3 separate regions of the Homo sapiens genome follow, and regions 2 and 3 are each linked to region 1. The links come from fine-mapping of genetic effects on gene expression. A gene starts in region 1. Each other region holds a variant in brackets. All regions are shown on one strand. Distances are between the middles of the regions.

Evidence for each region. PIP is the estimated chance that this variant, and not a neighbour inherited with it, causes the effect.
Region 2: its variant is the best candidate, but not a certain one, in a credible set for the expression of AGRN in whole blood (TOPMed, PIP 0.70).
Region 3: its variant is the best candidate, but not a certain one, in a credible set for the expression of AGRN in sigmoid colon (GTEx, PIP 0.74).

What each region holds. Positions count from the first base shown.
Region 1 is chr1:1,017,662-1,021,780 of GRCh38, reverse strand. It overlaps AGRN (agrin), which reads right to left and starts at 1,661. Exons shown (of 36, transcript NM_198576.4): 1 at 1,408-1,661. The coding sequence starts at 1,608. RefSeq lists an enhancer at 1-389 and a silencer at 1,898-2,347.
Region 2 is chr1:853,044-857,162 of GRCh38, reverse strand. It overlaps LINC01128 (long intergenic non-protein coding RNA 1128), which reads right to left. Exons shown (of 4, transcript NR_047524.1): 4 at 1-3,772. Among named protein-coding and RNA genes, the nearest start is that of FAM41C, 22 kb to the left of the region's middle. The variant C/T (reference allele first, on the strand shown) is at 2,078.
Region 3 is chr1:912,449-916,567 of GRCh38, reverse strand. LOC284600 (a long non-coding RNA gene) reads right to left here. Exons shown (of 5, transcript XR_007065342.1): 2 at 1,097-4,119; 3 at 619-818. Among named protein-coding and RNA genes, the nearest start is that of LINC02593, 5.2 kb to the left of the region's middle. RefSeq lists enhancers at 2,877-3,377, 3,378-3,878. The variant C/GAGCTGGGCAGTC (reference allele first, on the strand shown) is at 2,085.

The DNA.
Region 1 (4,119 bases):
GCCAGCTTGGCCCTGTGGCTGGGCTGAGACGCCCCTTCCTCGGGCTTCTACAGTCTGTGCACTCAGGGCAGCCTGTGAACCACGAAATCAAGTTTGGGCAGTGCAGGGTGCCCCACCCTCCACCTTCTCAGCTCCTGGGGCCCTGAGGGCAGCTGCTCTGACGGTGGCCTGTGGTAAAGGCTACAGCCGACCTGGCGGCCCTCACGGGGACAGGGACCCACGCACTCACGCACTCCCCTGAGAACAAAGCCGGGAGAAGCAGCCCCTTCCTCAGATCTGGGGGGCTGGGGCTGCCGGATGGGGGGAGAGACAATGGTTGGCCTGTCCACTGCGCAGCCCCTGCTGGGAGCCTCAGGACTGCGGCATCCGCAGGGACCCCCTCCAGTTGCGCAGGCAGAGCCTCTTCCACGCCCCCCAACAGTAGGCTCCAGGAGGCAGATGACCCAGGCAGGGGGAGGGCCTGGTGGCTTTCATCGCCTTCCCCCACCCCAGCCACACCCAGGAGCAGCGGGGAGGAAGTCGGGAAAATCCTGCAGGGGCCTGGCAAAGTGCCCTGGCCGCTGTGGAGGAGACTGGGCCGGCGGGGGAGCCCAGCTGTAGCCCGCACCGGCCAGTCTGAAAGAAGCTGCCACCTTCTCCACCTCCGTGGAGGGAAATGAGTGGATTTCTGGTCCCAGGAGATGGTTTTGGGGGTACACGGGCGCCGGCTCTGGGTCCCCCGAGCCCCTACTAGGAGAAGATGGTGGGGGTCCCAGCGTACCTACCCCGGGGGCTCCCAGAAGCACCTGAAGGAGAAACCAGGGAAACTTCCCCTCCCCGGGGTGGGGAGCCCCGGTTCCCGCAGGAGCGCGATGGGGCACCGGCCCTGCCCCCAAGCACACGAGGCCCGGTGACGGCCCCGCCCACCTCTCTGCTCCTGCACGCCCCCCCCCCGCACCACTGCGGCACCCCCCACCTGGCTCCCGGGGTTGGGAGCTCAGGCTGTGCGCCCCTTTTTCTCTCCTGACCAACCCCTCTCGCCCCGGGAAAGGCCTCTGGGGAGGGGAACAAGCGGATCCCAGGCCCAGCCCCCGCTCCCCGCCCGGGCAAAGGCCCCCCCTCCCCAGGCCCCTCTCCTTCTCGGCCGGTAGGGAGGGCGCGCGGCAGCCGCAGTCCGTGGGCGAGGTGCACTTGTCTCCGCGAGGAGGGAGGCGGCGGCGGGCGGAGGACGGCGGCGGCGCAGCAACTTTCCCCGGCGCCCGCGAGTTTCCCGGGACCCGGCGACCCCCCCTCCCGGGGCTTGGCGGTCGCCAAGGGAGCCGGAGCGGGGGCTGCGGAGCGACCGGGGCTGGTTCCCACGGCCTGGGGCGGGGGTCCCGGCGGGGCGGCAGGCGTCGCGAGGGGAGGCCGGGGTCCGGGTGGGCGCACCTTGCAGGAGTACGTGTGCTGCACCGGGTCCACGTTGAGGATCTCCTCCACCGTCCCGGTGAGCACCACGTTCGCCTCCTCCTCGCGCCGCTCCAGCGCGCGCTCCGGGCATGTCCCGCCGGCTCCGGGCAGGACGCACGCGGCCACCACAAGGAGCGGCAGCAGCGGCCGCAGCGGGCCCGGGTGGGACCGGCCGGCCATGGCGCAGGCGAGAGGCGGCGGAGGAGCGCGCGGGCCGCGCCGGGGACGGGACTGGACAGGACGGGACGCAGCTCCGGAGGCGGCGGAGCGCGGGCGGGCGGGCGGGGGGGGGCGGGGCCAGGGCGGCGCCCCTCCCCCTCTCTCCTCCCCGCCCCCCTACCCCCTCCCCGCGCCCTCCTCCTCCCCCTCCTCCTTCCTTCCCCCTCCCGCCCCCTCCCTCCTCCCTCCCCCGGCCCGCCCGGAGGCCGGCGACCCGCGCCGCCGCGAACAAAGCCCCGGGACGCAGCGCCCGGCGCGGCCGTGGGGCGGGAAAGGGGCGGCCCGGGAGGGGGCGGGGAGAGGAGAGTGGGGGGCGGGTCTGGATCCCGCAGGCGCCCCTCCCCCGCCGCGGCCCCCCGGAAGTGCGGCTGCACCCGAGTTAATGCCTAATCTGGAGGAGACGTGACGGGACTGCCGAGGGGCTCCGGGCGGCGCGGAGCCGGGCGGCAGGGCTCGAAGGCCGCCGGGAGGGGCCCCAGACCCGGCCCCGATCCCGCTCCGCAGGCCGCGCCCCTCCCCCGCGGGGCCGGACACCGAGGCTCGGCCGGGCCGGACCCCCCGGGAGCTGCGGCGCGGAGGCGGGTCCCGGTGCCGGGGCGGGCGCTGATTGGCCAGCACGGGGCGCGGCCCCGCCCCTCCCGGCCCCGCCCCCCCAGGCCCCGCCGCGGGGAGGTTCGCGCCCCCTTCCGTCCCGCGGCTGCAAGCGCGGGTCCCGCCACGCCCCTTCCCAGCTCTGGGCCGGGCGCCTCTGCAGCTTGGCCTGGCTGGGTGCAGGGGGAAACTGAGGGCTGGAGGACCCAAGTGGGAGCCTGGCCTAGCTGAAGATTGAAAGGAGGGAGCGGAGGCCCCCTTTGTCCCTTCAGAACTGTGTCTAGGCTGGGCGTGGTGACTCACGCCTGTCATCCCAGCACTCTGGGAGGCGGAGGCAGCAAGATCTCTTGACACCGGGTGTTCGAGACTAGCCTGGGCAAAATAGCAAGACCCCATCTCTCAAAAAAATTAAAAATTAGCTGGATGGGCCGGGCGCAGTGGCTCACGCCTGTAATCCCAGCACTTTGGGAGGCTGAGGCAGGTGGATCACGGGAGGTCAGGAGTTCGAGACCAGCCTGGCCAACATGGTGAAACCCCGTCTCTACTAAAAATACAAAAATTGGCCGGTGTGGTGGCAGGCGCCTGTAGTCCTAGCTACTTGGGAGGCTGAGGCAGGAGAATCGCTTGAACCCAGGAGGCGGAGGTTGCAGTGAGCTGAGATGGTGCTGAGAGGTGACAGCGTGCTGGCAGTCCTCACAGCCCTCTCTCGGTCTTCACGCCTCCTCTGCCTGGGCTCCCACTTTGGTGGCACTTGAGGAGCCCTTCAGCCCACCGCTGCACTGTGGGAGCCCCTTTCTGGGCTGGCCAAGGCGGGAGCCGGCTCCCTCAGCTTGCAGGGAGGTGTGGAGGGAGAGGCATGAGCGGGAACCGGGGCTGCGCGCGGCTCTTGCGGGCCAGCTGGAGTTCCGAGTGGGCGTGGGCTTGGTGGGCCCCGCACTTGGAGCAGCCGGCCGGCCCTGCCGGCCCGGAGCAATGAGGGGCTTAGCACCCGGGCCAGCGGCTGCGGAGGGTGTAGTGGGTCCCCCAGCAGTGCCAGCCCACTGGCGCTGCACTCGATTACTCGCCAGGCCTTAGCTGCCTTCCGGCGGGGCAGAGCTGGGGACCTGCAGCCCACCATGCCTGAGCCTCCCACCCCCTCCGTGGGCTCCTGTGCGGCCCAAGCCTCCCCGATGAGCGCTGCCCCCTGCTCCACCGTGCCTAGTCCCATGACCACCCAAGGGCTGAGGAGTGCGGGTGCACAGCGCAGGACTGGCAGGCAGCTCCACTTGCAGCCCCAGTGCGGGATCCACTGGGTGAAGCCAGCTGGGCTCCTGAGTGGTGGAGACGTGGAGAACCTTTATGTCTAGCTCAGGGATTGTAAATACACCAATCAGCACCCTGTGTCTAGCTCAGAGTCTGTGAATGCACCAATAGACAGACACTCTGTATCTAGCTACTCTGGTGGGGCCTTGGAGAACCTTTATGTCTAGCTCAGGGATTGTAAATACACCAATCGGCACTCTGTATCTAGCTCAAGGTTTGTAAATACACCAATCAGCACCCTGTGTCTAGCTCAGGGTTTGTGAATGCGCCAGTGGACACTCTGTATCTAGCTACTCTGGTGAGACCTTGGAGAACATTTATGTCTAGCTCAGGGATTGTAAATACACCAATCGGCACTCTGTATCTAGCTCAAGGTTTGTAAATACACCAATCAGCGCCCTGTGTCTAGCTCAGGGTTTGTGAATGTGCCAGTGGACTCTGTATCTAGCTACTCTGGTGGGGCCTTGGAGAACCTTTGTGTGGATACTCTGTATCTAACTAATCTGGTGGGGACGTGGAGAACCTTTGTGTCTAGCTCAGGGATTGTAAATGCACCAATCAGCGCCCTGTCAAAACAGA
Region 2 (4,119 bases), 160 kb after region 1:
CTCTTTAATAGGCAATGCATGTGTGGGGATATTTTTAAGTTTTATCGGTACAAATGAAATATGTTGAACACAAATCGAGCAAATATGACTTGGTCGTTAACATCCCTCTGATTAAACAGGAGTGCTGCTATGAGAACGGGCTGTGCCATTCTGCAGGCACACGAGAGTCGCTGGGTTTTAGGGTAGTCTCTGTGGAGAATGGTGACTGGACCACGTGGGAGAGGGGCTTGAGGCAGGAAGGTGAGCAGACTCCAGAGTTCAAGAGATGTTTGCATACAGTGCCCTCTTGTTTCCCCTTACAGTGTGGCTGTGGCCAGTATTGAGAACCAAGTGTTCAGGAACTCATGCTGGCCTGCCGGTCCCACCTGACCTGAGAGTGGCGGGCACTCAGCGTTTCAGCAAGCTGCTTCCTCAACGATGCTTTTGATCTCTTATTGTTGCTGGGGAGGCTGGAGTCCACCCAAATCAAGTGGGAAGTGCTGTCAGCTGCTACGTCTCTCACCTAGGAGCTTTAGAGGCTCAAGGGCATGACTGGAACAGACTGGAACCCAATGGAAGAGTTTGGATGCAGCATCTGTCCTGCTCCACTGAGCCCCAGGGAGGAAGCCTCGGCCACTGGCTGTGCTGAAGAAGGTCCAATCCGAGTGTGAGGCAGAAGAGCAGAGGCGTCCTCGAAGAGAAGGCCGGGGCTGCAAACCACAGGAGCAGGGTGTCCTGAGAAGCAATGGGAGCAAAATCAAGATGCCCAGAGTCTTGGGGCTGTTTCAGAAACCCCAAAAGCAAGAACACGGGTTGTCCAGTGGGTGGAGTCAGCAGTCCCAGTGCCATTTGGAGTTCAGTCACAGGAAGAACTTGCAAATGACAACACAGCACTGGGCACTTGACCAGGTGGGGGACCCTGCATCCCTGAGGTGGCTCAGGGGACAGGACAGAGGCAGGACCTTGGATCCGGGAATGGGGAGCAGAGCACAGCAGGACAAACCCAAACCCATCTCCATCGTTAAGAAAATCCCCAGCAGGTGGGGAAGGAAGAGCAAGAAGGCGAGAGCCAGGCAAGGCTGGCAGTGTCTGGTGCACAGGCTCCCTTTTCACCCTGGCTTATTTGAGATGGAATTTAAAATATTTTTTGCAAGATAGATTGTGAGCTTTAGAGTGAGAAAAGTATTTCCCAAGAACTTTACTTCATTTATAAAAGAGTAGATATGGAGACAAGGCGTCTGTGGCCCATAGTATTTAATGCACTCGAAACACGTTTAACTTCCAGGGTAGATCTGATGTCCTCCCTCCACCCGTAACTCCCCTGAAATCTCCTTAGTGTTTAGTGGTGCTGTGCCTGCTTTCTCACACACACCACTTGGCCCTCGTGACTCATCTCATACATGCATCTCAATTCTCAGCCTCCCCACAGCCCAGACTTTCTGTTTTAACCTCACAGCTGCCCAGCGTGATGGCTGTGTCCAGCCCAGCTGACGGATTGGCCATTTCAACGTGAATCCCAGGCACTCCAGCCTTCCTTTGCAGGTGCCATTTCCTGACCTGGGTTACTCTACCAAGTTCTCTCCAGCTTTTGTCTCCACAGCAGCCTCCCCACATCCCACCAACACAAACACGCAGCACATGCAAGCACAAACACACGTGCAAACATGCTTAAATACCATGTACACATGCACACAGGTGTATATGTGTACACACACTACACACACTGTACAAACATAAACCCACATATACACACTTGCACACACTGTTGCACACAGTACACAGACACACATGCATGTGAACACATACACATGACACGTGTTCGCATTAAACACATGTGCAATACAAATTCATGTACACATATGCTCGTGTGTGCATACACAATACACAGATACACCCGTACATCAACATGCATCAAAGCACATGCATACACAGAGACATGCGCAATGTGCACAGGTACACACATGCACACATACGCTTTGGAGCTGGGTTCACATGCTGAGTGGATGGTGTGCTCTGAACTAGAAGCCCAAGGCCATGGCCCACTTACCTCAGTGAACCTCACCTGTGCTCCGTGTCAGCAGCCACACCTGGATGTCAC[C/T]CGGAATTGCCCAATTCTGGCCCTGACAACACCGCAACCAAGGAAGAGGCACAAGACCCAGGAGACGATGGTGCTGGCTGATGCCGCCCCTCCCTGAAGGCTCAGAGCCTACACTTGCTGGGTGCTCCATGGCCATGTGAAGCCCAGGGGAGCTGAGTGATGGCACCGCAGGCCCCAGGAGTGCTCCTCTGGCTTCACATGCACCCAAGCTGTGATTTTTCAGATAAATATGACTCAGAAGACCTCGGTGTTTCTGTGTGATTTGCCTACCTAATGTCGGAGATGGGTATTACAAAATATTTTTGGTTCATCAAATGGTTTAAGGTAATTTCTCAGTAAGATGGCTTGGCTCACACGCCATTTTCAAGAATGCTGAGAAAGGAGAGTGTGCCATCAAGCTGTGGAATCGCTTGGTACGCTGTGGAATTCCGTGGTAAGACGTTTTTCAAGGACTGAAGTGCATGGAAGAGGAAAGGAAACCTTTGTTGCCTATTCATGTGTTATTTCCAGGTCTCGACCCACCAGTCCCCACTGCCTCCCTTCGTAGCTCCTCTGGTTCCCATGTGAGTCCCTCCCTTTGCATCCACACGATGCACTGCGTCACTCATCTGCACGCATCTTGCTTTCCAGAGCAGACTAAAAGCCCCTCTGGACACAGAAAGTGCCTCTGTCTCTTTTAATAGCTATTGTACCTCACAGAGCATTTAAATTTTTATTGATGGGTTAATAAATAATTGATTGATGGGGACCGAAACTAATCTTTAAAATTGATTGTCAACTGAAAACCTGCACAAGATATCCCACTGTTTAACAATAGAGAGGAGCTATTGCAGCTGCTGTGACGACTGGCAATGTCCTCTTCTTTATCGCACCTCTAAGAAATCTGCTGGCAAATGACTTCTTGGATACTGTTTCATTAAGGAATTTCTCAATGGATAAAGTTTTTACTATTCTAAAAGTATCTTTGTGTCTTCACAGTAGGTGCTGTATTTGGTTTGGAGGAATTTTATTAGTCTAAAGGACATAATTTCTTCCTTCTAGGAGCTTACAGAGGACTAGAGGATGAGTTACCTGCAGAACCCATCACTCTATGGAACCTCCCGGCCGGTGTCCTGCACCCTAGGATTACACACATGTAGTAACACAACTTATTTCCACATTCTGTAGCCAAAGCCTAATGGGTCAGGGTTCATCAGTTTACCACACGGCAGTCATCTCATGTTGATCAGGGTCGGGGTTCATCAGTTTACCACACGGCGGTCATCTCATGTTGATCAGGGTCGGGGTTCATCAGTTTACCACACGGCGGTCATCTCATGTTCATCAGGGTCGGGGTTCATCAGTTTACCACACGGCGGTCATCTCACGTTGATCAGGGTCGGGGTTCATCAGTTTACCACACGGCGGTCATCTCACGTTCATCAGGGTCGGGGTTCATCAGTTTACCACACGGCGGTCATCTCACGTTCATCAGGGTCGGGGTTCATCAGTTTACCACACGGCGGTCATCTCACGTTCATCAGGGTCGGGGTTCATCAGTTTACCACACGGCGGTCATCTCACGTTCATCAGGGTCGGGGTTCATCAGTTTACCACACGGCGGTCATCTCATGTTGATCAGGGTCAGGGTTCATCAGTTTACCACACGGCGGTCATCTCATGTTGATCAGAAGCCTTGACAGCAAGCCTAGATGTCTGTTGATTATAAATAAAAATTATTATTTATAAATGCAATTTGTTTGGAAAACAAAAATCAAAGCTTGGGATCCATGGAGTTAAAAAATAACTAAAGAATCTCTACTGATTGAAAGATAGTGAGCTAGGCAGGGCACAGTGGCTCATGCCTGTAATCCCAGCACTTTGGGAGGCCGAGGCGGGCAGATCACTTGAGGTCAGGAGTTCCAAGACCAGCCTGGCCAAGATGGCGAAACCGCGTCTCTACTGAAAATACAAAAATTAGACGGGCATGGTGGCGCACGCCTGTAATCCCACCTACTCAGGTGGCTGAGGCAGGAGAATAGCTAGAACCCGGGAGGTGGAGA
Region 3 (4,119 bases), 110 kb after region 1:
CCTGCTCAGGCCTGGAGGCTGCTGCTGGAGCCGGCAACTCTGGAAGCCAGAAAGGTGGGGCTTTAGTGCCTGTCCTCAGACCCTCAGGTAACCAAAGCCAAATTACTCCCTGTTGGAAACACAACCTCACATACCGGGCCACAGCACGGACACCCACGACAGCAGGCCACAGCACGGACACCCACGGCAGTGGCCCACAGCACGGACACTCACAGCATGGACAGCAGCCCAGAGGGACCCTTGCCCAGACCCTGACCAGGGGGAAGAGACAGTTGTGTCTGGGTTTGTCAGTCCTCTGGTTGTGGCAGGGCCCCTCTGGGTGGGACTCGGCACCTGTACCTGGGAGCACCTGCTCAGATGAGGGAGTGGGAGCAGGAACAGCGCTCATGCTCTCTCCCTGTGTCCAGGGCTGGGGCCCTGGTCTGGCGGGTAGGCATAGGGCACCTCCTGCCCTCTCATGCCCTCATACACCTGCTGCTGGGGTTCCCTGTCCCACCCCAAAAGGGAGAAGCCAAGGCTGAGGCAAGGTTGGAAAATCAGGGTGGGGACTCTGGAATCCAGACATCCCGACAGAGGATGCAGGAGGAATCGGCGTGAGCGCAGGGTAAACTCACGGACCCGAACTCTCAGATGTGCTTCCTGGGCTCAGCTTCCCCTTTCTGGAGGGCTGGGGGTTCCAGAACCTTGCCTTGAATTTGTGAGGATGGTGGGACCTGGAGGGCAGGTGGCGCAGATGGTGTGAGCCCTCACCCCAGGACGCTGTGCCCACTTCTGGCTGTGCAGCCTTGGGAAGGCTTCTGACTTCTCTGAACCTCAATCTGTAAAATGGGAATGAGAATGAAACAAGATGAAATTAACATGCATTGAGCGTGTGGGGTGGGGCAGAGACAGCCACCTTGCAGCTGGTGAGGCCCTTACAGCATCTGGTCCTGCCACCTCGCAGCTGGTGAGGCCCTCACAGCATCTGGTCCCGGAGCCCACACAGCCCTTTGCAGAGACTGCCCTACCCACGTGCAAGCGTTTCGCCCTCTTCCCACGGGCGACCCCAGCTTGGCCGCATGCGTTTTTGCTCAGAACGTCCCCACCTATGTCCCACCTGCCCTCTGGCTTCGGGAGTGCTGGGCGCAGTGGTGGCAGGTGCCTCGGTGCCCTTGGACTTGCCCGGTCGTCTGTTGCTTCTGAGGCGGCCCCGTTGATGGGTGCTCCTTCTCTTCTGGGTGCATTTTCCTTTTCCTGCTTCCTCGCATGCCTGGTGATTTTTGAATGGGTGACAGGGATTGTGAATTTTGCTGGGTGCTGACTATTTTTGTAGCAAAGCTGAGAAAAGCTTACTTTGCTCAGGACTCCAGGAAGTTACTTGGAAGCTGTTTGGTCCTTTGGGGTCTTGCTTTTAAGCCCTGCTGGGAGGACCAAGGCAGCTTGTAGTCTGGGGCTGACTGTGCCCTCCTTTACCAGGGCACGGCCCTGCTTGGTGCTCTGCCCAGGGGCTGAGGTGCCCCAGCCTGGCTGGTGGACCACGGACCTTCCACGGTTCCCTCTGGTGATCTCGGGTGGTTCTCCTCACCTTCTGTAGTTGCCTTTCTTTTTTTCTTTTTCTTTCTTCTTTTTTTTTTTTTTTTGAGACGGAGTTTTACTCTTGTTGCCCAGGCTGGGGTGCAGTGGTGCGATCTTGGCTCTCCATAACCTCCGCCTCCCGGGTTCAAGTGATTCTCCTGTCTCAGCCTCCCGAATAGCTAGGATTACAGGCATGCGCCACCATGCCCAGCTAATTTTGTATTTTTTTTAGTAGAAATGGGGTTTCTCCATGTTGGTCAGGCTGGTCTCGAACTCCCGACCTCAGGTGATCCTCCCACCTCAGCCTCCCACAGTGCCGGGATTACAGGCGTGAGCCACTGCGCCCAGGCCTGTAGTTTCCTTTCATGTGAAAATGCTGATTGTGGCTCACTCTTTACCTGCTGTCACCTCACACCTCAGCCTCCCCAGACTCCCAGCTTGGTCTCCTTCCCTGAAGGAGACCCCTGAACACACCTGGGTCCCCACGCCTGCACCACAGCCTGGACACTGGGGGCAGTGAGCTGGGCAGT[C/GAGCTGGGCAGTC]GCGGGGCTCCGCCTCCATTGTTCCCCAGCCTTGCTCACCTGGTGACCCTGGCGGGATGGGGGTCTGGCTGCTCCCTCCTGCCTGGACGTCTGTCCCCACTGGTGTGCTCACGACAGTGCCCTGCATGCCTGCGGGGCTCTCACAGGTGTTTTCTGAGTGGCCTGGGTGGGGCCCGGGCAATCTGCTGGACAACAGACCCTCAACCCATCCCCTGCCAACCTAGCTCAGCCCTGAGCTCCTGGCAAGGGATGAGACAGCCTGAACTTCAGCCCAGGGAGGGGTGCGGGGGCTGCCGTCAGGTCCCTGCTGTTCCCTGTGCACCGAAGGTGGGCCACCTGGTTCTTCCTTCTCCAGGACCTCAGGCAGCCCCTGTTACCCAAGGTGGCGGCTCCACTGTGGGGGCCAGGACAGGGGCGGAGGGTGGATAGCATGCCCACTGTGAATGCCCCGGCTGGGTCCTTGCCTCTCCAAAGGCTTTGTCACCAGGGCCCAGGTGACAGGAGGCTGTCATTGTGAAGGAGATTTAATCTTAGAAAACTCTCAGGAGAGCAGTGAAGCCTCAGGGTGCTGGATTACCCGGAAGTGCACTCTGGGCTGGGGGCAGCAGCCGCGGTCATAACACGTGTGTGCCACACCAGGAAACCTGTCTGCTAACGTGTGCACATGGGCAGGCTGGCAGCACCTGGCTCTGGCTTGCTTGGAGTGGACGTTGGATCAGGTGGCCCGGGTCTCAGCCTGACACTGCCTGGCACTGAGGACAGGGCGTTGCTGACACTGCGGGCTCAGGGTGGGGGTTTGTCTCTACGGCTGACCTTCTGGCCGAAGGAGTGTATGGGGCATGGTCTCAAGCAGGTCCCAGGATCCCTGACCCTTGGCCAGGCCCAGGCCTTGGCTCACGGCCCTCAGATGAACAGGCAGAGGGGGTCAGGACGGGGTGGACCAGAGCAGGCAGGGGGCCCTGGACAGAAGGGGAGATAGAAGGGGGCATGAGGGGCTGTCTCCTTGGTTTGGGTCTTAAACAGCGTGTGGTTTTTCTCTGTTTGAGGGGCAGCCTGCACCCAGAGCCTCCAATGGGCATGGCGTGTTTTGAGGGTGCAGGTGAATCTCTTTACCAGAGGCTCCCCGGGGACAGGGCCCATTCAGAAGGCCACCTCTCTCAGTGCAGCCAGCAGCAGGGCAGAGCTCTGGGGACCCCAAGCCGGAGGCCCACATGGGCGGGAGACACTGCCTCCAGTCACCCCTGGGGAGCCAGCGTCTAGGGTCACTCCCGGTGTGGCTCCCTCCCTGCCAGGCACAGTTCACAGAGGCAGCTGCTTTGGGAAGTTTGGTGCCAGACCCCGCCAAGCCCCTGCCCGGGGCATCTCCTCCCGCACCCTTCGCCGCCATCTTTCAGACGGCTGCTCTCCTGAGCCAGGCCCGCGCGCCATCTCCTTTAGGCTCCTGCAGTTCCTCCGCTGGCCTCCACGCTGCCCCAAGCAGGAGCGTTGGATCTGTCATTTCCTGACGTTAACGGTTAACCCGAGGCTCTGCTGCCTGCAGGATGAACACACTTTTCATTATTTCTCCGATTCCTTCAACCGTCACTGAGCCTGTCTCTGTGCCAGGCGCAGAGCTGCAAACCCAGGAAGACAGTGGTGAGCAGTTCACACTGCCCTTCTTCCTGCTGTGGAGTGCAGAAAAGGAAGCTCCAAGCTTGCACCTGGGGCGTGCAGAGCCACCTTCTGCCAAAGGCTCCCGAGCCTCATAGTTCAGGAGGGGCAGGAGGGGCTGATCGCCCTCACCCCAGAACAGCGCTTTGGCGATCCTTCACGCAGACACCAGTCCCCTCTCTCTATTCCTGTTCATCCTTGATGCCAATGTCAAATGCCACTTCCTCCACGAAGCCTTCCTGGATCCCTCCAGTCAGAATGAGTCCATTGTCCTTGAGCTTCTGAACCCACATCCTGGCCTTTCCAGAACTGGGCCTGCTGGCTTACACAGGAACCCTGCCTTCATAACTGGACTGTAGGCCCCACAGGGGTCTCATCTCTGCTC